Linked DNA regions of Homo sapiens. The protein of the gene in region 3 purifies or fractionates together with the protein of the main gene of each other region. This does not show direct contact. Each region holds a gene or a part of one and is shown on either strand. Other genes may lie near its edges. The genes, in order: TMED8, CEBPZ, LRRTM3, NRXN3, PEX11B, ADCY9 and RRP1.

Evidence for each region.
Region 1: the proteins of LRRTM3 (region 3) and TMED8 purify together in Homo sapiens (affinity purification with mass spectrometry; one large-scale study listed by BioGRID and IntAct). This does not show direct contact.
Region 2: the proteins of LRRTM3 (region 3) and CEBPZ purify together in Homo sapiens (affinity purification with mass spectrometry; one large-scale study listed by BioGRID and IntAct). This does not show direct contact.
Region 4: the proteins of LRRTM3 (region 3) and NRXN3 purify together in Homo sapiens (affinity purification with mass spectrometry; one large-scale study listed by BioGRID and IntAct). This does not show direct contact.
Region 5: the proteins of LRRTM3 (region 3) and PEX11B purify together in Homo sapiens (co-immunoprecipitation; one large-scale study listed by IntAct). This does not show direct contact.
Region 6: the proteins of LRRTM3 (region 3) and ADCY9 purify together in Homo sapiens (affinity purification with mass spectrometry; one large-scale study listed by BioGRID and IntAct). This does not show direct contact.
Region 7: the proteins of LRRTM3 (region 3) and RRP1 purify together in Homo sapiens (co-immunoprecipitation; one large-scale study listed by IntAct). This does not show direct contact.

What each region holds. Positions count from the first base shown.
Region 1 is NC_000014.9:77,339,095-77,342,594, reverse strand, and holds part of TMED8 (protein TMED8), read left to right. Parts: intron 1-606; coding exon 607-824; 3' UTR 825-3,500.
Region 2 is NC_000002.12:37,214,597-37,218,096, reverse strand, and holds part of CEBPZ (CCAAT/enhancer-binding protein zeta), read left to right. Parts: intron 1-1,059; coding exon 1,060-1,113; intron 1,114-1,678; coding exon 1,679-1,781; intron 1,782-1,888; coding exon 1,889-1,957; exon of another isoform or gene 1,958-2,776; intron 2,777-3,144; coding exon 3,145-3,211; intron 3,212-3,500. UniProt on the Homo sapiens protein: Stimulates transcription from the HSP70 promoter.
Region 3 is NC_000010.11:66,932,536-66,936,035, forward strand, and holds part of LRRTM3 (leucine-rich repeat transmembrane neuronal protein 3 precursor), read left to right. Parts: intron 1-3,500. UniProt on the Homo sapiens protein: Exhibits a limited synaptogenic activity in vitro, restricted to excitatory presynaptic differentiation. May play a role in the development and maintenance of the vertebrate nervous system.
Region 4 is NC_000014.9:78,705,373-78,708,872, forward strand, and holds part of NRXN3 (neurexin 3), read left to right. Parts: intron 1-3,409; exon of another isoform or gene 3,410-3,500. UniProt on the Homo sapiens protein: Neuronal cell surface protein that may be involved in cell recognition and cell adhesion. May mediate intracellular signaling. Functions as part of a trans-synaptic complex by binding to cerebellins and postsynaptic GRID1.
Region 5 is NC_000001.11:145,913,284-145,915,717, reverse strand, and holds part of PEX11B (peroxisomal membrane protein 11B), read left to right. Parts: intron 1-2,434. UniProt on the Homo sapiens protein: Involved in peroxisomal proliferation. May regulate peroxisome division by recruiting the dynamin-related GTPase DNM1L to the peroxisomal membrane. Promotes membrane protrusion and elongation on the peroxisomal surface.
Region 6 is NC_000016.10:4,106,443-4,109,942, forward strand, and holds part of ADCY9 (adenylate cyclase type 9), read right to left. Parts: intron 1-3,500. UniProt on the Homo sapiens protein: Adenylyl cyclase that catalyzes the formation of the signaling molecule cAMP in response to activation of G protein-coupled receptors.
Region 7 is NC_000021.9:43,799,577-43,802,684, forward strand, and holds part of RRP1 (ribosomal RNA processing protein 1 homolog A), read left to right. Parts: coding exon 1-73; intron 74-940; coding exon 941-1,038; intron 1,039-1,285; coding exon 1,286-1,305; intron 1,306-2,697; coding exon 2,698-2,811; intron 2,812-3,108. UniProt on the Homo sapiens protein: Plays a critical role in the generation of 28S rRNA.

The DNA.
Region 1 (3,500 bases), on a different chromosome or scaffold from region 3:
CTAAGCATTAGTCTTATTCCTCTTATTCCTTGATTTTCTTATATAATCTTAAAGTCAGTCCTTTAACGTGCTTCTTCATAGAACAGCAAGCGGGCAGGGAAACCTACAGGTATCTGGGAAAGCGGAGAACCTTGTATCTTATTTGCTGCTTTTCAGGAATCCTAGGGTCACTTTATAGCACGTTTATCTGCAATTCCTATCTTCGTTAGCTAGTCCTTTCACCTACTAAATGATAGAATATCGGGATCTTTTCTTCTAAATATCTCTTTCTCCCTCTCAGAAATGTCCAGACACTTCTGAAGCTAGGAAGGCTCCTCTCAGGCTAAATCATTTTCTCAGTGGAGACATTATTGGCATTTGGGATGGGACATTGTTTGTTGTGTAGGTACTATCCTGATTTTAGCACTCCTGGACCCTTGGGTACTAAATGCAGATATCACCTAATAGTCACTGTGATGACCAAAAGATCACCAGACATTTCCAAATGTCTGTAGGAGGGCAATAATCTCCCCGCTCTGTGAAAGCCACTGGGTCACCTGGTCCTTCCGCTCACCTTCAGGCAGGACTTACGCAGTCTCTGAACACTTTGCCATTTTGCTCACGCAGAACCCGTTCCAGCTGGAGATGTGGAGAGAGGCTCCAGGAGCTCCTTGCGGGGTCGCTATGGGGAGGTCATGCCTGTGTACCGGCGGGACAGCCACCGAGACGTGCAGGCTGGCAGCCATGACTACCCTGGTGAGGGCATCTACCTGCTCAAGTTCGACAACTCCTACTCCCTGCTGCGCAACAAGACTCTCTACTTCCACATCTACTACACCAGCTGAAGGACTGCTGGGACAGGGGCAGGCTGTATTTGCTGGCTGAAGCAGGCTGCCAGCTGGTGCCTCTTGTTTGGGATAGGCAAGAGCCAAAGGTTCATGGGGGGCTGCTGAGCCTCACACCCTGTCTGGCATGCCTGACTGTTGGCCCACGTAGCTTTTTCCCCTTCTTGGCTTCTGCAGGTGGTGGTGTAGTGCCCCTGTTCTGTAGTCCCTGACTCATACCCTTCTTGCTTCAGACTCCAGCAAATTCCCTCTTGAAGGCACCTATGGGGCACAAGCCTAAAAGGAAGCAGGGCGATGTTTTTTAAAAATAGATTCATCTTGGCACAGGTTTATCATTCAGATTGCTGCCCTCTCCTCTCCCACAGCCCTTATTGCCAGTGCATTTAGTGGCACCCACTCTCTTCAGTTGTTGAGGTGCCAGAAGAGGGAAAAGCACATTGCCCATGAAGGAGCCCCATCTTTTGGTTGGAGAAAGCTCTATCCAGCCTGTCACCACTGCCATATTCCTGCCTGCTGGTTATTCTTGGTCTCTGCATAGCTGGGAGACCACACTGCCTTTGGAGGGCTATTACTATTCCTGATGGTAGACACCCCCTCCTTTCTCTTTCCTAAGTCTATGTTTTTGCCATTACAGCAAGAACATTCATGCAATCTCAAGTGATGATCAATGTAACCTAAGATCTTGTGGGAAGAAAAACTGCCCCCATTATTTCCTATTCCAAGAGCTGGTTTCCCTTACTATGGGCACTGGCAGTCAAAGTGGAGAGAGTGGAAATTAGGTACTGAATTGATGTCAGAACCCACATATTTGAAAGTCGTGTTACTTTTTTTTTTTTTTTTGGTATAATCAAAGAAGGAATGGTATCATCTGACAGAGAAGATGAAAAACAAAAAACACTCCAGAGTCCCCACCGCTTTTTTTTGTCTTTAGAGTAGGAGTGCTGTTTAGAAATGTTGCTTTGGAATCAAATGCAGTGAAACCCAATCAGGTTTCCAAAGTTTCTGCATTTAGCTTTCTTGCATTGAGGGCTTAAAGCTTTTGGTGTTCAAAGTCCCTTAGTTTAGGTGATAATGAAGCTTCACTATTGCTGCTGATTGTATTTGTTCTTTACCTGACCAAAGCTTGCATTTCCCTGGTGACAGCATTTCCTACTGTGTCACCCCTGAGGCTCAGGAGTGCCACAGAGTGCAGGTAGTGCTGCAGCCAGTGGTCACCAGAGCACCAGCTGCTGGGCCCCCAGGCGGAGGAGGAGACGGAGGTGAGATGGGACCTCAGCAGTCTCTGTGTTTGTACCTCCCTGTCTCTTACTCCTCGTGTTATGTCTGTTACTGCCTACGAATTCTGAAGAATAATTAGATTTATTTATTACTGTATTTATTTTTTTAGCACATTTCATTTTGCCTTTGAAACAGTTTCCATCTGTTTCTCAGAAGGCTTCCCATCTGTTCTGAGCCACTGAAGCCCCCTCTTTTATGGAGTTAAAGATGATATTTTTAGGAGAATTTGGGAAGCGATGATGTTTTATTTCTGTAGGTCAGTCCTGTGACGGCTTTGCGAGGAGTATGGCCCTTCAGAGATGGATGATGCCACCTTACTCCATGTTTGGGGTACAGTCCAGCACTCCCCATGAAAAATTCTAAGTTGTGAGGGAATCTGCCCATTTGCTGGAGATTGAGTGCAGAGGAATTCCCTAACCAATCAGAGATATCCCGTGATTCCAGGATTTCAGAGTCCTTTGTCTCCTCTGAGGTGTCACCTTCTTTGTGATGTTTCCTTTGACTCATTGTTAGATTCCTCACACCAAGGGTCTATCCCTACAGTAGCATAACTCAAGGAACGGGACTCTTCCCAGTGGGTCCCTAGTAGCATCTACATCACATCAAAGGGCAATATATCCTGCACCTGCTCTTCCCCTCGGAGCAAAGCCCCAAGTGGGATAGGATGTTGGGGACTGCCAGAGCATTCCCATTCTCTGAGCAGCATCATACCTCCATTATTTTATATTTGCAAATGTGTTTTGTAGAGGATTACACTGGCCAACATTTATATACCTTTAAAGAAATTATTTTAGTGACTGTCTGTTGAGGCAGTGAAGAGCTGATTTGCTGTGTGTCATCCCATTGGATAGCTGAGTGACCGCTCTTGCATCATTGAAGTTGAATCATGCCTTAGCTAACTGAATATAATCTTTGTAAAATAATTTTCTACTGAGCTGTTTTCTAGTCAGCTAAAGCCTTGCTTATTTTTCCTGTTTATTATTAACTTCTGCCTTTCTCTCAAATTGAAACAGTCAGGCCATACACAGCAAGCTCCCAAGGATAACACTTGTTATTATTTATTTTCACCATGAGATTCTCTGCTTATTTTCTTTGGAATCCTAGTTCTGTTGCATCAGGGAAGCCTAAGGGACTTGTTCCCCTCACCTCTGTGTGCCTCTTAGGGTCTGGTCACTTTTGAAGTCCTGGGCATGGTTACATTTCATTCATACTGGTTTTTCACCAACTGTCAGGGTTTCTGTGTTCCATTAGCACAAAATAGCTAAAAGAAGATATTTTCACTGTCTAATTCACTATTTTCATGTTACATTTCTGAAATAATTGAACTTTAGGGGCAAGATACTACTTACTGAAGCACAGGTAATTACTGAGAACCCACAGCCCAGCAAATTCTAAGAG
Region 2 (3,500 bases), on a different chromosome or scaffold from region 3:
ACGGGGTTTCACCGTGTTAGCCAGGATGGTCTCGATCTCCTGACCTCGTGATCCGCCCGCCTCGGCCTCCCAAAATGCTGGGATTACAGGCATGAGCCACCTCGCCTGGCTGCATAATTATTTTTCATAAATATGCTACTTACTAGTATGTAGTAGCTTTATGGTTTTTGTTTTTGTTTTTTGTTTTTTTTTTTTGAGACAGAGTCTTGCTCTGTTGCCTAGGCCAGAGTGCAGTGGCGCGATCTCGGCTCACTCCAAGTTCCGCCTCCCAGGTTCACACCATTCTCCTGCCTCAGCCTCCCGAGTAGCTGGGACTACAGGCACCCGCCACCACGCCCGGCTAATTTTTTGTATTTTTAGTAGAGATGGGGTTTCACCATGTTAGCCAGGATGGTCTCGATCTCCTGACCTCGTGATCCGCCCACCTCAGCCTCCCAAGGTGCTGGGATTACAGGCATGAGCCACCGCGCCTGGCCGCTTTATTGTTATTTTTAATGGACCTATAAGTATTTACAATTTTTCTGTTTATTTTTATAACATAGGTGTCTGTAGATATAAACCTGTTGAATAGAAACTGATGGAATTTTTGGTTTTTAAGTGTAGGAAATGGTCCTGAGACCAATATGTTTTGAGAATCACTTTTTTAATGTATTGGCTTAAATTTCAAATTTTTGCATTTTCATTTTTGTTGTTGTTGAAATAGGGTCTCACTCTGTCACCCAGGCTGGAGTGCAGTGGTGCCATGTCAGCTCACTGCAGCCTCGACCTCCTGGGCCCAGGCAGTCCTCCCACTTTAGCCTCCTGAGTAGCTGGGAGTACAGGCACGCGCGCACCATCACACCCTGACTATTTTTGTACTTTTTGTAGACATGGGGTTTCGCCATATTGCCCAGGCCAGTCTCAACTTCTGGGCTCAAGCAATCTGCCTGCCTGAGCCTCCCAAAGTGCTGGAATTACAGGTGTGAGCCACCACACCCAGCCCGATTTTCTTAAATAAGCTATAAATGTACTAAGAGTCGACCTTAGAAATATTGATATTATTCACATTTTTCTTTTTAGTTATCTGTGCATTTTCATCCCTCCGTGGCCCTTTTTGCAAAGACCATCCTTCAGGTGAGTCTAAAATAAATCCAAAGATGAGAAATAAGAAAAAAAGTATCATTTTAGATAATCAATAATTGGTCATACAGTGTTTTCTCTAACAGAGAGAATCTTGTACATTTTACTGCTCGTATAAAGAAGCAGTGACTTGTTTCATACAGAGTAGCAGATAACTTTTCCCACTCTGAGATGAGTGGAAGCAATAAGACATTGAAAGCCACGCAGTTATTTATTTATTACCTTCTAGCTCCTCTCCTGGAGAAATACTGCCTCACTTTCCCATTTGCTGTGTTTGCCACTTCAGGGTTTGGTTCCTGATTAATGGTTAGATGGCCTGCATTATTAATATTAGTCTATCCATCAAATCAACATTACATCCTAGAATATGTATGTATATGTATCTGTGTGTTTAATTTTTTAAGTATAATGTGCATGAGAGAGATATTTGAAGAGTCATTTATTGCATATTTGTATCTTCAATACAGTGTAATAGAAATTATCTTTTTCTTCCTTTTTCTTACTTGGATTCATAGACATAATTTGAATTAAGTTTTTAAATCCCCGCTCCACTTTTCAGGGAAACTATATTCAGTATTCAGGGGACCCACTGCAGGATTTCACTCTAATGAGATTTTTGGATCGATTTGTATACCGAAATCCAAAGCCCCATAAAGGCAAAGGTATGCTTCTATTTAGTGAATTATTTGGCTTTCATTTTTAATACATAATAAACAATATGAGCTTATAACTAGGTTTTGCATTATACTGTCATAATTTTACATTTCAGAAAACACAGATAGTGTTGTGATGCAGCCGAAAAGAAAACATTTTATTAAGGATATTCGTCATCTTCCTGGTAAGTATAAACCTTAGACAGTTGAAACTGAAAAGACAATATAAGACAAAGATGCATAAATTGTATTATTCTTTGTTCTAATTTATCAGAATAAAACCTGAGCATCAAAGACATTATCCATCTTTTTTCCCAAGAATAGGTATTCTTAAATCTACTGTATCTGACTGGGCCTTTTTTTTTTTTTTTTTAACTTTATTACAGCAAATTTGAAACATATCCAAAATAAACAAAATAGTATGATGAACCCCCTCCCCATTACCATCACCCAGCTTTGACAGTTGTCACCATTTTATCATCCGTAGCTTCATCCACAACCCCTATGTATATAATTATTATTGCTTACAATTCAGACCATCTTAAAGCTCTCTAATATCAGCTTAGCAGCACAAAAACCCACAGCTGGTTTTGTCACAGAGCATCATTTTAAACTTAATAACCTACTTCTATATTTGCTAGCCATCTTCTGGATCTGAGTCTGTTGTTGTATTCAAAGCAGACATTTCTTTGCATACCAGATCTCATCTCCCTTTTGTTCAGAGACCAGGATTAAATTAGACCTTATAGATCATTTAATTTCCAGTGACTTACTTCACAGAGGTCCAGAGATGTAAAAGGACTTACCCACAGTTAGTAAGTTAGAATTAAAAGCCAAATCTCCTTTTACTCAGGATGAGTCAGCAATTTTTATTCTGAAGAGGTAAAACTGATTTCTTGTAGTTCCTTATTTCTTAGTTTTCCTCAGTATAAAGGAAAACTCTGTTAACTTCCTGTTTATTCCCAGAATGGCACGCATTAATGGCAAGCTTGTCATTTTTTGAGCTGAAAATGACAAGTTTAAAGTGATTATTTATTAAAATAACTCTTTGAATTTTTTATTTCTCTTGAAAGTTGGGTCCTGGATGCAAATGAAGAACAGTAAGAGAACCCTGTTGTTTCACTGTAACGGCACTGACAGCTATGTACTGCCTACTTTATGCTGTAGCCAGTGAAGTTTCAAATGTTGGGGGGGTCTTCACACAGACTTTTTCAGAGATTGTCCCTTGCACTCCAGAGTCCCTTCTGTCTACCTTCCCACACAATTCTGAGATTTTTAGAATTACAGATTATGCTGTATTTTGTCTTAAGAGCTTGAGTAACATAAAGGGGATTGCTATATGAAGTTAAAATGTTTAAATTTATTTTTGTAGTGAACAGTAAGGAGTTCCTTGCAAAAGAAGAAAGCCAAATACCAGTGGATGAAGTGTTTTTCCACAGGTACTATACATAATATAGTTTCATTTGGGGAAACTGCTAAAATTTAAATTTTTAGATTTCATAAAATGCTTCATTTTATGAAATAATCTACTTCAATAATCTACTACTGTGTGTAAATAGACCATGGAACATTAGTGGGAGAAGTGGCCTTAGTTTTAAATGCTTCATTTTATGAAATCTAATCAGCATATTTTGAAAAGATCAAAGGATATGTCTGTGTTTGTTAAGAAAATTTACAAATCCGTCATTTTGCTAATCTTAATATATCTTAGTAAAACTAAAGTAAATT
Region 3 (3,500 bases):
GTTGTATTCTCCTAGCTACCTACACTAAAAATCAGAGGCAGTTGGGGGAAACAATGAGCACAACAGAATATATAGGTAAATTTGAATGACACAAGTTTTAAGAGAAATAAAATGGATGGATGTTAAATAGTTTGTATCAAATAGCTCTAATTAAAAATGAATTAAAGAAATAATAATAATACATAGGTGAAAGTCACTGCTTTCCTAATCATAATAGCCTACAGAATTGGACCCAAATTCTTTTAGCCTCCAAAAGTTGGTGATGATTTTGGATACTTAATACTACCAATAAAATCTAAATAACAATAATTTATGATTCTTTTGCATTTGAGGGAAATATCACAGCCAGGCATGGTAGAATACGGGCCTTAGAAATTAAGACCTAAATTCAAGTTCCTTTGACACTTGCTAATCAAGTCATCACAGGTACATTTCCTGGCTTTTCTGAATTTGAAGTTTCTCATATGTAACACAGATGTGTACTATTGACTGCTCATGGTAATTGGGAGGACGAAATGTGAAAAGTACTTTGTAAACTCTAAAATGGCAACTACCTCTTCTTTTCAAAAAGCCCTTAGTGAGATACTGAGTGGGGTTTGTTGTTCTATGTTTGGCATGAGCCAAAAAGAAATCAGTAACCTCCATGTTACAGAACCCCAAGCCCATTTTACATCATTAGAAGTCTAGAACATCGTCTTTGACTTTCTGTTTTCACATAGGCACAGCTTCTTCCACCTCATGTTATCTAAGTCTATGATTTTTATACTGATTATCACAATGTACAACAGACATAAAGACACCGACCAGCGAACACTAAAACAAATAATTATCAAACACATTGAAAATTCTACTTGTATTTCAGATCAGGCAACTATAGCAAGGGCTTTCAATCAGGACGTTTACCTGTCCACTCCCTTTCTAGTATCATTGTGTTCAATCCTTGTTGACTTTACACTGGATCAATATAATGTTTATATGGCAACATGACATCATTATTGAGCAAAAAGTAATTGCATATAACATGTTACTGTAGGATTAGCACGCATTCCAGGTATCAGTCACATGATATCTGCTCTGATGTTTCTCCCCTGGCCACTCCAGTGGAAGACTGTGCCCAAGATCTCCTCTTAGTATAGAAATTACTATTGACTTTATCAATTATAATTATTGAAAAATCACTGGATAAAAAGGGGTATAAATGTACAGGGACTTCCTTTTATATGTCATTGCTTATGCAAAATTACATCATTAATTCATCAAAGAATGACAAAAGGCTTCCTCCGCTGGATGTAGCTGCTCTTACCAATATGAAGTAGCAGGTGTATTTTCAAAATGTTTGTCATTTAAGAAGACACAGACTGTTCCTCTTTGACAGCTGAGTTCCTATGGCATATCTAAAGATCAGAGAGAGGATGATGGTTTTTCAGGTGGGGAAGCAGTTGTGAGTTTTCTGACATTTTAACTTCATAGGGTCATGAATGGACGCTCTTGAGTTAGGGATCCTGAACACGTGAGGAAAATTCCAGGAACACAGAGAGAACAGGAATATCTGGGACATGATATAAGACCAAGCAAGTACAATGTATTTTACAATTATACTTTCTAACAACAGAACTTCTATAAGCAATAATAATCCATTTTATTGAAAAAAAAGAAAAACAGCTTCTATCTTATCCTTTCCAGCAAATGTTGTAATGATAATTAATAACTTTATTAACAATTCTCCATGTTTTCTTTTTATTTTTAAGGGCTCTCACTTCTCCCAATCAGGATTCTCATTTATCCTTTCTCTCACTCTTAAATTGTTCTCCTTATTTGAAAGAGTCTGTAATTCCTATATCACCAAAAAATGTCTTCCTTTATAAACCAACACAATTCAGTCATTTGGCTCAAAAGAGCAGCATTATCTCCAAAAGAAAAGTTACACACTTGCATTAAATATTAGGACATAAAACAAATTTAAAGCTGGCTGACACTTCTCTTTCCTCTACAATCTATAAAACACCTCTACAGTATATTATGATTTGCAATTGAAAAAACAGGATATATAGTTGAATTACAGTCTTACAAAGTATTAAAGCTTACTGTTTTCCTCCTTAATTAGCTAATTCCTAGAAAACAAAGTATAGGACTTTATGTATAGGGGTACTCAACTATATTTCACCAATCAGAAACACTCTTTCCAACAATCAGAATTTTGTCTTCTCAAGGGTAAAATATAGTTTTTTTGGCCTGGCATATAAAATAGTAAGGCAAATACTACATTTAGCAAAGGCAATTTTTGTTGACATTTCATCACATCAATTACATCTATGCAGGGTGGAAAATACATTTTGTCAGTAAGGAGGCAATGACTTCAATTAAATGTAAATCCTTAGTCAGCATTCTTGGTGCTAAAGCTTATTAATGAAGTGGGAGCAGAATGAAAATGTCATCAGACAGTGAAGCTACAGTATCATGAGGCTATGCTACCTTGAGTGGTGTTCATAGCTTCAACTGGGTGGCCCTCATGTAGCTAAAAAAGTGCTCCTTGTCATTAATATTGATCTATGTACTTTCTAAAAGAAAGAATATGCTTACCAACAGAGCCCTCATATTGACTGTCTTCCTATAAGTTTCCCTCATTAATATTTGATGCAGTCAACCAGAATCTCACAAGAGCTTTAAAGGAAACTTGTAGAATGCATCATGTTGATATTGAAAAAGTAGAGTAGCTTTTAAAATTCTGATAAATGTGTGACAAGATTACAACAGTGAAACCTCTCTAAGGTACAACAGTGAAAATAGTTATAACGGTGAAAACTCTAGGAAGTTTACCATAGTGAAAACTCTCCAAGAAGTTTAAAATTCAGCGCTTTGAGATTAGTGTTGGCATGTACTTGTCAATTTATGAAAGGGATTTTGCCTAATGTATTCAAAATTTTAATGTGAAAGGTATAAATACTTGGTTTGTGTACTGGCACCAATAGAGGGTTAGGTAACATCACTGAATTATGATTAAAATGGAATATTTAAAGATCTTTCTAATATGGCAGAGGACATATTACATACGTATTTGTATTTCCACCAAGGTACGTATGTTGTACATGCCTAAAAAAATATATATATATTTTCCTATTAGGTGAATATTTTTCCTATAATGTGAAGATATTTTGGTATAATTGAGTCCTTATTATGTACCAGGAATTTGTATATATTATCTAATGATTTGATAAAAAGTGTTTTATGCGTTTCGTAAACTCAGATAGTTTTCCTTAAAATATAAGAACAGAGCCCTTTATATTGAGTCTGTCTTCCTGTAAGTTTCACTCATTAATCCTATACATTTTCACTTCTTTATAGGACTGCTCTAAAATAATTTATACCCCACCCACAAAAGGCTTCTCAAAGCCAAATCATGCATCTCCAGATCCCTTTAGGAAATAATTTCCGATGATTTACCATTAGAACATCCCTCTGCTAGTTAAAGTCTAATCTGCCAGTATAGTGTTCCTTCCAGC
Region 4 (3,500 bases), on a different chromosome or scaffold from region 3:
GCGTGGCTGTGGCTGTGGTTCTGCACAGAGCAGGTGGGGAAGGTGAAGATATTAACAATGGAGAGTCCCAGTTGAGCATCACTGGGCTACAAGTCCCTTGCCCTCCTGTCCTTTTCCTCTTGGTAGATAAACCTTCACAGAACCTCAATTCAGGACCCTATCCATTTCCAACAGAACCCCAACACCATGGGAGATGAAGATATAGGATTATTTCTTCCTAGGTTTGTGTGCCGGTTTAGAATTGTCTGTGTCCTACTATGTCTAACATCCCACTTGATCTTGACAACAGCCCTGTGAGCTGGGAAAGAGGGACAGTTTGTGGAACAGATATCGAGGCTCTTACCTTTGGAATAAATAAAATGGGACTCAGAAGGGTTATTCAGCTGTCAGTGAGAGTGGTGTTGGCTTTTTATTCACAACAGTGAAAACTCCATATAAATAGACAGGTAATTTCAGGGCCATGGAGTAGATAGAGCACTCACCCTCAAAGAGCCTTTGAGAGAAGTCTGGTTATCTCTGTCTGGCCAGTTTCTGGCCCTTGCTTCTCTTACCTATGTCTTCAGAAATCTTCATTCCGGCTATTCACCTTCTCTCCCAGTCTCAGTTAGGTACCCTTCTCACAGAAGAGTTCCTCTTCACTGCTCTTGTATCTTGTTAAAAGGCTTTTTTTTCCCTCCTTTTTATTCTGTCCCCAGCCTGCTGTAGCAATGCCTGATCTCTCTTTCTATTTATTGTTCCATGGAGCCAAACCTCCTTCTGTCCCTTTGGGATGACCTATTGTTATACATTAATAATTAACCTTTACTAGGAACTCTAGTCACAGGCATTTAACCCAAATGCAGAAAAAGCCAAAGTTTGTTTATGACAAAGAGTTCTCACATGCTAAGGTATAATAGTGAAGGTTAGAAAGGAGAAGCTGACACTCATTAAACTTTTATGATTTCTTTTCTGGTTTACTCACTTGAGTGATTGCCTGAGGATCCTGCAATATTTCCCTTTGCACATGGTCAGCCCAGTTTAGCTAAAATGAAAAATTCAGCTTTTGAATTGTGAAGTTGAGCATGCATGACTTTCCATGTAATGTTAAAGATAAGCCTCACAGGTGCTGCTAGTGGGGCCTGGTTCTGAGCATATGGACCCTGGGGCCCAAATGCCTAGGTTCAAGTCCTGCTCTGCCACTTATCAGCTGTGTGCCTGTGGGCCGGTTCCCTAACTGCTCTCTGTGTCTGTTTCTGCATCTGTAAAATAAGGCAATGATTACAGGTATCTCAAATGGGTGTTGTCTGTATCTAATGGGATGGAGAGGTGTTAAATCCTTACCATGGTGCCTGGTGGTAGGTGCTTAATAAGTGTTAGTATCATTATTTTCAATGTTATTGACTATGGTTAGGTCCACGGTCAAGGTTACATAATAGTGAGTCATTTTCAATGCTTCGCCATAGTTATATATCACTCTTGTAATATCCATTAGAATGCAAACAGCTTTGCTTGATTCTCTCCTGGTGATGAGAGATGGGAACTAATTCTACATTTAAATATTGGGGATTATATGATATGTGCTGGAGTGACCCATCCAATTAACTTTGTCTCACAGATATGGACAGATGAGGCTTATTTTAGAAATTAGCCATTGTTGTTTTGGAGATGATAATGCAACCTTTTCAGGGCTGTGGAAATAGCGAAATGAGATTAACAATAACCCTCCAAATAGCTGCGACTTTTGTGCCCTTATGATATTGCATTCCTAAGTGCTTCACATGTTTTAAATCATTTTATTATTACAAAATAAATAGTTTGTTTATTCCTATGTTCCCAATTTCAGGAGAGGAAACAGACTCAGAAAATTTACTTTGCCAAAGTCACATAGCTTGTAAGTAGTAAATGTGGAATTCAAACCTAAATCTGGGTCCTGACTTAGAATTTGAATAAGGTAATATAAAGAAAATAGGAAAATAGTTGGGACGCTCAATACTCAGATCCTTGTCTATTTCCCTTCCATTGTTTTCTGCTTATTAAGTTTTTATGGATACGACATTGCTCAGAGATCAGAGCGCCAAAAACCATTCCAGGGTACTGTATCAAATTTCAGTTCAAATAAGAGTAAAACTTTTTTGAAATTCTAATTTCATGGAGAAAGATTAATTTCTGCTTTTAGATGGATTATACCTGGTTTAGAAAGTCATAACAGATTTTTTTCCCATAGGTTATTGGGGTTCAGGTGGTGTTTGGTTACATGAATAAGTTCTTAAGTGGTTATTTGTGCGATTTTGGTGCACTCATCACCCAAGCAGTATACACTGCACCCTATTTGTAGTCTTTTATTCCTCACCCTCATCACACCCTTCCCCTCAAGTCCCCAAAGTCCATGTATCATTCTTATGCCTTTGCGTCTTCATAGCTTAGCTCCCACATATCAGTGAGAACATACAATGTTCGGTTTTCCATTCCTGAGTTACTTCACTTAGAATAATAGTTTCCAGTCTTATCCAGGTCACTGCAAATGCCATTAATTCATTCCTTTTTATGGCTGAGTAGTATTCATATATATATATCACATTTTCTTGATCCACTTGTTGATTGATGAACGTTTGGGTTGGTTCCACAATTTTGCAATTGGAAATTGTGCTGCTATACACATGCCTGTGCAAGTATCTTTTTCTTATAATGACTTCTTTTCCTCTGGGTAGATACCCAGTAGTGGGATTGCTGGATCAAATGGTAGTTCTACTTTTAGTTCTTTAAGGGATCTCCACACTGTTTTCCATAGTGGCTGTTAGACAGTCATAACAGATTTTTTTAACTGCCATCCTCACGTTCTCCACCTACCTACCCACTCTGCAGGACAGTGGCCATGGCTTTGCAGAAGTGTACACTAACCTTGGGTAGGGCATGGAGGCAGAAAGCTCTGCTGGACCCCCTTGCAAGGTGAATTAGTATCTGGTTCAGTATTCTTTGTAAAATCAGACTCTCAACTAAATCAATGTCCTTGACTGACTGGCTGAAATAGGGCTTCAGGGTGTCTCATTCTACCACTGTACAGAGGGCACATGCAATGTGCAAAAAATAAAAACAAAAACAGACCTCTGTCCCCACCAGCTTTTAACACTTACTCTTTTCTTTCAAGTAATATATCCACATGGTTGAAAAAAAGTCTAACACTGTAAGAGGGCACAGTGAAAAGTAAGTCACCCTCCCACTCCAGAATATTAATCCCGCAAATATACTCCCCAATGACAATTTTATAGTTCCAAAGAGACTTTATGCTTACTGGAGCATATATACATATAATGCCCCCACGCCCCCACACTTTTACACAATGATAACATAATGCACCCTCTATCCTGTTCCTTGACAATTTCACTTAACAATGTGACCTGGAGAGCTTCCACATCAAAACCAAAAGCAATACCTTGTTTGCAAGGCCTGCCTAATATTCCATTATAACGCTGTGCCATCTGCTATTGATGGTCATTTAGGTTGTTTCTGGTATTTTACTAAGG
Region 5 (2,434 bases), on a different chromosome or scaffold from region 3:
AGGTTGCAGTGAGCCGAGATCGTGCTATTGCACTCCAGCCTAGGTGACAAGAGCAAGACTCCATCTCAAAAAAAAAAAAAAAAGAAAAGAAAAGAAAAGAAAATGGATTGCAGTGGGTCAAGAGAGGAGGAGATGCCCTAATACGAGCAAGAGATGACGTTGGCTTGGACAAAGGAGGTAGCTGACAATAAAGGTAGAGAGAAATATGATGTGGGAGTAAAATTCTCTAACATATTATCTGTATTGTTTTTCGTTTTCCTATGATTGTACTTTTTCATTATATTAACCTTGCTTTTCCCTTCATCTTTCTCAGTGATTTACAACTTTAACATGGCTTATGATGTATGAGGGGTGGGAGCAGAGGCATGGCTGGAGCAGTATGGAAAAGCAACTCCCTAAAGGAGTCTATATGTTATATTTATTCATTTCATCCAACAGATACTTACTGAGCTCTTACTATATGGTAGGCACCAGTGTACATACAGGGATACAGTGGTTAAAGATAAACAAGGCCGGCCAGGTGCGGTGGCTCATGCCTGTAATCCCAGCACTTTGGGAGGCCAAGGCGGGCGGATCACCTGAGGTCAGGAGTTTTGAGACCAGCCTGACCGGCATGGAGAAACCCCGTCTCTACTAAAAATACAAAATTAGCCGGGTGTGGTGGCGCATGCCTGTAATCCCAGCTACTCGGGAGGTTGAGGCAGGAGAATCGCTTGAACCCGGGAGGCAGAGTTTGTGGTGAGCCGAGATCGTGCCATTGTACTCTAGCCTGGGCAACAACAGTGAAATACCGTCTCAAAAAAAAAGAAAAGACAAACAAGGCCTCTGCTCCTCTGGAACTTACCTTGTAATGGGATGAGATAAACATAAATAAACAATAAATTAAAATATCAGATACTGGTAAATGTTATGCAGGAAATTAAAACAGTGTTATGGAGTAGAGAGTAACTGACTCAGTGCTTTAGATTTAGGGATAAGGGAAGGCGTCTCCGAAGAGGTGATACTTAAGCTCATACCTGAAGAGCAAGAAAGAGCTAGCTATGTGAGGGTTTTGGAGGGAGAATATTCCAGGTGGAGGGAGAATATTCCAGGTAGAGGGAATAGGTAGTGCAAAGGTCCTAAGGCAAGAACAAGCTTGATGGGATTAAAATGTAGAAGGAAACCAACATGGTTGGAGCATAATGATTGCAGGAAAGAATGATACAAGGTAAAGTTAGAGGGGTAGGGACCAGATGTTGAGTCTGTAAGCCTCTCTAAGGTATTTATATTTTATTATGAATGTGACAGGAAGAAAACCATGGAGAGCTGTGGTTTGTTTATTTGTTTTTGGTTTTTTTTTTTTTTGAGATGGAGTCTTGCTCTGTCGCCCAGGCTGGAGCGCAATGGTGCAATCTCAGCTCACTGCAACGTCCATCTCTTGGGTTCAAGTGATTCTGCTGCCTCAGCCTCCTGAGTAGCTGGGATTACAGGCACGCGCCACCACACCCAGCTAATTTTTGTATTTTTAGTAGAGACAGGGTTTCACCACGTTGGTCAGGCTAGTCTCCAACTCCTGACCTCATGATCCACTTGCCTCCACCTCCCGAAGTGCTGGGATTATAGGCGTGAGCCACCACGCCTGGCCAACCATGGAGAGTTTTAAGAAGGGAAGTAATGATGTGATTTATGTTTATGCTAGCTATTATATGAAAATAGATTGTTGGGGGTGGGGGCAACAATGGCCACAGTGAGACCAGTTAAAACATTAAAGCAGAAGTCCAGACAAGAGATGTTAGTGGCTTAGAGTATGGCAGTGCGGTGTGATAGAGAGATGTGGTTGGTTGGGTTCAGGATATACTTTGAAGGTAGTACAAGTTATTGAGTACAGACCACCATTGTCAGATTGGATTACAAATAAAAAACATGGATTTTTTACTGAAGAAATTTATAATTTAACACATTTGGCAATTACTTAAACCTCTGGGCCTCTAAAGGAATAGGGATTGGATTTAGATCACCTTTAATATGTTTGAGTCTCTGAGACATCTGAAATTTGTTCTTTCAAAACAAGTTTGCCTTGTTATAGGTCAAGTTGAGAGAGAGATGGAGAGTGTGTGTGTGTGTGTGTGTGTGTGTGTGTGTGTGTTGCCAAGTGGAAAATGAAATTTGAGATTGACCTTGGAAGATTTCATGATGCTCATGGAGTTTAAACCAGGATCTTAAGGTGCACATAAACATGTATTAGTTACAGAATGTTGGGAGGACTTTGTTTCTTCATTTTTATTGGGACATAATTGACAAATAGAAATTACATATATTTAAGGAGTTATAGCTCGATGTTTGTACATGTACGTTGTGACATGATCACCACAGTCAAGCTAATTAACATATCCATCACCTCACATAATTACCTTTTTTCTTTTATGGTAAGAACACTTAAGATCTACCTTCCTGG
Region 6 (3,500 bases), on a different chromosome or scaffold from region 3:
CCCTTCCTGTTTCAAAAACTCTCATCTCTTCACAAAATTCCCTCCAGGGATGCTAGTTCCTGTTGGAAAAGGTCTTGAGGTGTGTCACAGGCAAAGTACAAATGATATGCCCAGGGCCAGATGGATGACAGGCCCCTAAGCTCAGCTAGTCCAGAGTCAGGAGGGGACCTGCAGAATTCTAATGGTGAATGATTACACTCTTACAGTTTTGGAATTCCAGCAAAAACACCAATACTAAAATCACCAACCAAGACAAAGACGAGACTTACGGCCCACGCAGGCTTCTGCACACTCTGTGCCCAGACATGGACAGATTAATGTGGGTTGGTTGGTTGGTTTTTTTCCAAGATTACTATTCCACAGCAAAGTACATAGGCAACGCTGACCAATATGCAGAAACATAATTACTATCTCACCAAGCTGGCCAGAAGACAAAAATCTTGAAACTTCTTGACTTGCTCTAATTGTTCCTTCTCCATGTTTCCCTTCCTTAGGCATTCTACCTGAAAAGACAGCCCTCCCTTCCTTCTTCATCCCATTGGCAATTCAGCAAACCTTAACCTTCTCTTGCTTTACCAGAGGTTACTTCTACTCGAAAGCTTGTCTTCAGAATTAACAGCTGTGTCCTTGTCACTGTAAGCCAGGTCTCAAAGAGCCTGAACAAATGGTCACTGGGGGCAGCTTGAGTGTCGACTCTACTGCTGTTTTCTGTCTCCCACCCCAGCTGTGGAGGGGAACTGTGTGCCTCATCTCATCTCTGCCATTTGCTATCTGAGAGGCTGTATTTCCACGTGCATAACAGATCCTGCTCAAGAATGCAGGTCAAGGCTGGGCGTGGTGGCTCACGCCTGTAATCCCAGCCCTTTGGGAGGCTGAGGCTGGTGGATCACCTGAGGTCAGGAGTTCAAGACCGGCCTGGCCTACATGGTGAAACCCCATCTCTACTAAAAATACAAAAATTAGCCGGGCGTGGTGGCGCACACCTGTAATCCCAGCTATTTGGGAGGCTGAGGCAGGAGAACCGCTTGAACCTGGGAGGCAGAGGTTGCAGTAAGCTGAGATCACGCCATGGCATTCCAGCCTGGGTGACACAGCCAGACTCTGTCTCAAAAAAAAAAAAAAAAAAAAAAAAAAAAGAATGCAGTGCAGGTCAACACAGAATTTCCAAGCAAGGAGACTGAGCTCTGCTAACGGGTTAGCATCCCAGTGGCAAGGGTTGCAGGCTTAGGTGGGGACAAGCTAACGGGGGAAGGAAGGGGAACACCTGAGCATGCAACTGAACCCCAAACCAACACCTGGCTAGGGTTCTGTCAGCTGGCAGGCCCGTGCTCAGGGTTAATGGGGCGCCCAGATTTCCGGCATGAGACAGGTGTTTGTTTGCAGAGGCTAACGCATACAGAATGCCTCCGTCCACTGTCGGTCTGTCGGCCCACCAGACAGGGTCTACATAGGAACTCCTCTAAGGCAAAGGTCTCGATCACAGAGGTGGCCAACAGGTGACAATCTGCCCAAATGCATACCAGCGGGTCTCCTCCCCAAGTTGCTCCACAAGCATAAAGTTTGGCTGGGGAAAAAAGCTTTTTTAATTTCTGCATCTGACAATGTGATCACTCCCTGGTATTCCCCTCTTCAGAGATATGACCATGGGTGTGGATGAGAGCGGAGGAGCATCTTCATTCTGTCTTCCTAATATTTACACGGGAAAAGAAGATGCCTGTAGATATTTTCTAACAGTTTCATTTTCTGTCTTTGTGACCCTGTATCTATGACAGGAAAAGCCAACAGCTCGAGATAACACGTCTCACCATTTTTTGCTTGTGGCCCAAGGCAGAATACAACAGCCACGGTTCCCTCAGGCCTAGCGGTTTCATCCCAAATGCTGTGGAAGGTCCCTCACCTTAATCAGACCGTTTCTTCATTTTTTTTTTTTTTTTTTTTTTTTTTTTTTGGCGACAAAGTCTCGCCCTATCGCCCAGGCTGGAGTGCAATGGCACGATCTCGGCTCACTGCAAACTCCACCTCCTGGGTTCGAACGATTCTCCTGCCTCAGCTTCCCAAGTGGCTGGGACTAAAGGCGCCTGCGACCACACCCAGCCAATTTTTGCATTTTCAGTAGAGACAGGGTTTCACCATGTTGGTCAGGCTGGTCTCAAACTCCTGACCTCCTGATCTGCCCACCTCGGTCTCCCAAAGTGCTGGGATTACAGGCATGAGCCACCACGCCCGGCCCATTTCTCCATATCTTTAATAACTGTCCCTCACACTTTTTTTTTTTTTTTTGAGACAGGGTCTCATTCTTGTCGCCCAGGCTGGAGTGCAATGGTGCAATCTTGGCTCACTGCAACCTCCGTCTCCCAGGTTCAAGCAATTCTCCTGCCTCAGCATCCCGAGTAGCTGGGATTACAGGTACCTGCCACCACACCTGGTTAATTTTTGTATTTTTAGTAAATATGGGGTTTCACCACGTTGGCCAGGCTGGTCTCAAACTCCTGACCTCAGGTGATCCGCCTACCTCGGCCTCCCAAAGTGTTGAGATTACAGGCATGAGCCACCATGCCTGGCCCCTCACTTTTTAGATTATTTCCAAAATCCTAGCAGTATGCTAAAAATTCCTGCAACCTTCTCCCAGTGACTGGCCACCCTAGATAAGATTTCTCACACTCGTACACCCCATCTGCTGTATCCCCTTCCTGCTTTATGTTTGTTCACAAAACACTTTTTCTATTTTACTTATTTATGGTTTGACTCCCCTGTTGTCCCCTCTATTAGATCTCCCCTATTTGAAGGCCTGGTTTTTGTTTCTTAGAGACAGGGTCTCACTCTGTCGCCCAGGCTGGAATGCAGTGGTGCAATCACGGCTCTCTGCAACCTCGACCTCGTGGGCTCCAGCGATCCTCCTATATTATTGACTTAAAAATTCTTGTCCCCTATTACAAGAGCAGGAATTGTTGTCTGTTTTGTTTACGGCTGTATTGCCAGAACCCAGAACCGTGCCTGGCACGGAGTAAATGATTTGCTGAATGAGTAAGCAAGCCAGGGGTTCCGGGCCTCTGTACTCTGCAAGTCCATCCTGCATTCTCCATTCATACCATAGCAACTTCAAAGGCCCCTCACCCATTCCTGACTCCACATTGTCGCCAAGTCACTTCCAGAAACTTAAAATGCCATTTCCCATTCACATGGTCAAGCCCTTCCCCTCCTGCCAGTCGTTTGTTTAAATCTGGCTTGCAGTCCCATCAAGCTGCTCTTCCTAATGCCACTCAGATCCCATCACCTCCATCACTGCTACTGTAACTTTGGATTGGGCCACCATCACCCCTACCTGGGATTTACTCGACACCTCATTAATCTCTTTCCAACCCACACTCACTAGCTCTGAAAGAGTGAACTTTCTAAAACTGCAAGTCAGATCACCTAAGCCCCCTGTTGAGTGGTTCCCTGACACCTATGGGGTCAAATGCAAACTCCTTCCCACGCTACCCATGGCCTTCCTTGTCCTG
Region 7 (3,108 bases), on a different chromosome or scaffold from region 3:
CTGCAGGGCTGAACCTGAGGCTGGTGAGGAGCAGGCAGGTGACGACAGGGACAGTGGCGGCCCCGTTCTCCAGGTGGGTTCCCTGGGCTCATGGCTGTGCCCTCAGCCTTTGCCCCTCTGTGCTACCGCTTGCTCTGGAAGAGGAGGGGGGCGTTAGGAGGGAGGATGGCAGCTGTTGGCATGGAGAGTTACCCGGACAGGGGTTAGCTTTGAAGGAGGGATGGGTGCCCCAACCCTGCCCGCCTGTAGACGAGTGGGATCATTGAGAGTGGGGCTGGGGCCTGGGAAAGTGGGGCTGGGGCCTGGGAGGGTGGGCTCAGGCAGAACTGCATTATCCAGGGCTGGCCTCACCTCACGCTGTCCTCTTGCCTCACACATGGGCAGCCCCCCAGATTTCCTGCGGCCCCCTCGTTGGGGTGCTGGTGGGGAATGAGATGGCATGTGCCAAGCGGCTGGCCTGTGGGTCCCAGCGAGGAATCCACTCAGCCAGTGGGGTCTGACTTCAGGCAAATTGGAAACTTAAATGTTTTAAGTTTTAAATATGATTATCTGCAGACTGAATAAAATGTGGCTATCTTGGGTTAAAATTGATCAATTTAACCTATGTTGTTCGTGCTTGTCTGTGTGGTTCCTAGAGTGGTAAAGCTGCAGGCAGGCTACCGGCGGGCGTGTGCCCTGCAGTGTGCCCCGCAGTGTGCATCTTCCAGAGTGTGCCCCGCAGTGCGTGCCCCGCAGTGCGCCCGCAGCTTGTGTGGTGCCCGCTGTGCTGTAGAGTGGGTGGAGCTGCAGGACCCTCAGTGAGGGTGGGCTGTGTTCCTGTGAGCCGGGTGGAGAACCTGCAAGTGGGACCAAGTGCTATCTGGGTCTCAGGGGTTCCACGTTCTCGGAGCACGCAGAGCGTGGCTGACCTTGCCTCTGTGACGTCTCTCTTTTGAAACAGTTTGACTACGAGGCAGTTGCTAACAGACTGTTTGAAATGGCCAGCCGCCAGAGCACCCCTTCTCAGAACAGAAAGCGTCTCTACAAAGTGATCCGGAAGTGAGTGTGTGAGGGCGCTGCGTCCTCCCTGCTCCCCTTGGAGTTGCCCTTTCTTGCTCAGATCTGGGTGCCTTTGCCTTGTCCTGGGCCCTTCCGCAGCCCCCGGGGTGATCCCCGCTAGGACCCTGAGACCGTCCCCAGCCCCTGGGGTTCCCCTGGCTAGGAACCTGCAGCCGCTCTAGCTGGAGCTTCCTCCTCCTGCGGAAGCCGCAGCTGTGGTAAGTGGGTATCTGTCTTACTCTTTCAGGCTGCAGGACCTGGCAGGAGGTGAGGATCGGCCGGGCACTGACAGTGGCACCACCTTGGAGGTGGAGCTCCATCCTCGTGGGAGTGGTTTGGTTCTAGGGGTCTCATAGCACGTGGAGTCTCTTTGCAGAGAGGCCTGGTGGTGTTTCTGAGGGACAGGGAGGCAGGGCGCAGGGTTCCACAGCTCTCGTTTTTGTGGTTTTTGCTGAGTGGTTCTCAGACTTGAGTGTCCATTGGAGTGCCCCAGAGCCTGAGAGATGGGGTGCTGGCCTCAGGGGCTCCCAAGCACTGACCGCGGTGCTGCTGCTGGTCTGTTGGGCAGCACACGTCTGTTCTTGGCAGCGCGTGGCGGATGGAACTGGCATAGGTTATCGGAAGGACGGTTTCCTAGTGGGCGTCGATGGTTAGAGACGTAGGCGTTTCCCCTGGTGTTTCCTTATGAAAAGTTTCAGACCTGCAACTCAGTTGGAAGGATTTTATAGTGGATGTCTGCGTGTCCCTGCCGGCCTCCAGCATCAGCACTTCCTGTCCTTGCGTGAAGCTCCTCTATCCCAGCATCACACCCCTGCATCCGCCAGCGGGCGCGTCATCAGCTGTAGTCCAGGGTTTGGTTTTTTTATTTTTTATTTTTTGAGGCGGTGTCTCGCTCTGTTGCCCAGGATGGCGTGCAGTGGTGTGATGCAGCTCACTGCAGCCTCGATCTCCTGGTCTCAAGCGATCCTCCCGCCTCAGCCTCCCAGTCGCTGGGACCACAGGCGCACGCCACCACGCCGGCTAATTGTTGTATTTTTTGTAGAGACAGGGTTTCGCTGTGTTGCCCGGCTGGTCGTCTGGGGTTTTCGGGACAGCGCGCGTCAGTGAGGTGCGTGAGGATCGTGTGCATCTGGCAGGTTTTGATGCAGAAAGTTGCCTTGGGCCGCCAGCATGAGCATTGTAGGCTGTAGACTTTGGTGTACAGGTTGAGCGTCTCTAATCTGAAACCCCAAATCCAAAATGCCACCAAGTCCAAAGCTGAGTGCTGACAGGAAGCTCCAGGGAAATGCTCGTCGCAGTGTTTTCTGTTTGGGGTTTTCAGGTGAGGGCTGTTGAACTGGTGAATATGATGCAGACGTTCCAAAACAACCTGACATTCAAAGCACTGCTGGTCCCAGGCATTTGGGGTCGTGGACGCTCTATGCTGTACCTGTGTCCTGGATGCTCCAGGAACTGGCTTTTCCAGATGGGCTTGGGTCTCAGCTGGTTCGTTTCAGCTGTGGCGGGTACTGAACACGCTGCTCCTGGGCATTAGAACAGGGCGCTTTCTCACACACATTGTCAGGAGGTGGTGCTGGCTGGGGCCTGCTGGAAGCAGCGAGCCTCAAACCATAAGTCCCCAGCCCCCGAGAGCCCCCTGACTTCTGCCCTGGTTCTCAGGCATTTTCCCTGAAGATGAGATCCCAGAGAAGGCCTGCAGGCGCCTGCTTGAAGGGAGGCGGCAGAAGAAGACGAAGAAGCAGAAGCGTCTGCTCAGGTTGCAGCAGGAGAGAGGTAGGACTAGGGGGTGTGTTAGTCATGGAGCCGGCGTCCTCACCTGCTTGCTTCTCCCCTGGATGGGGGTCACCTGCAGTGTCTCCCCCTGAAGCATGAGTGCCGAGTCCCCCATCCTGGGTGCCTGCTATCCACGCATCCCGGAAATGCCCTGTCCTCGGCATCCCTCCTGTAGGCCTCTCCCTGCCTCCCCCACCCACCTTCCTTGTCTGCAGCTCCCCCGAGCTGTGTGCGCTGCCCTCCCTCCCGGTCTGGAGACATCCTCCTGGCTGGGCTGCCTCCTTCCGTGCCTCCGTC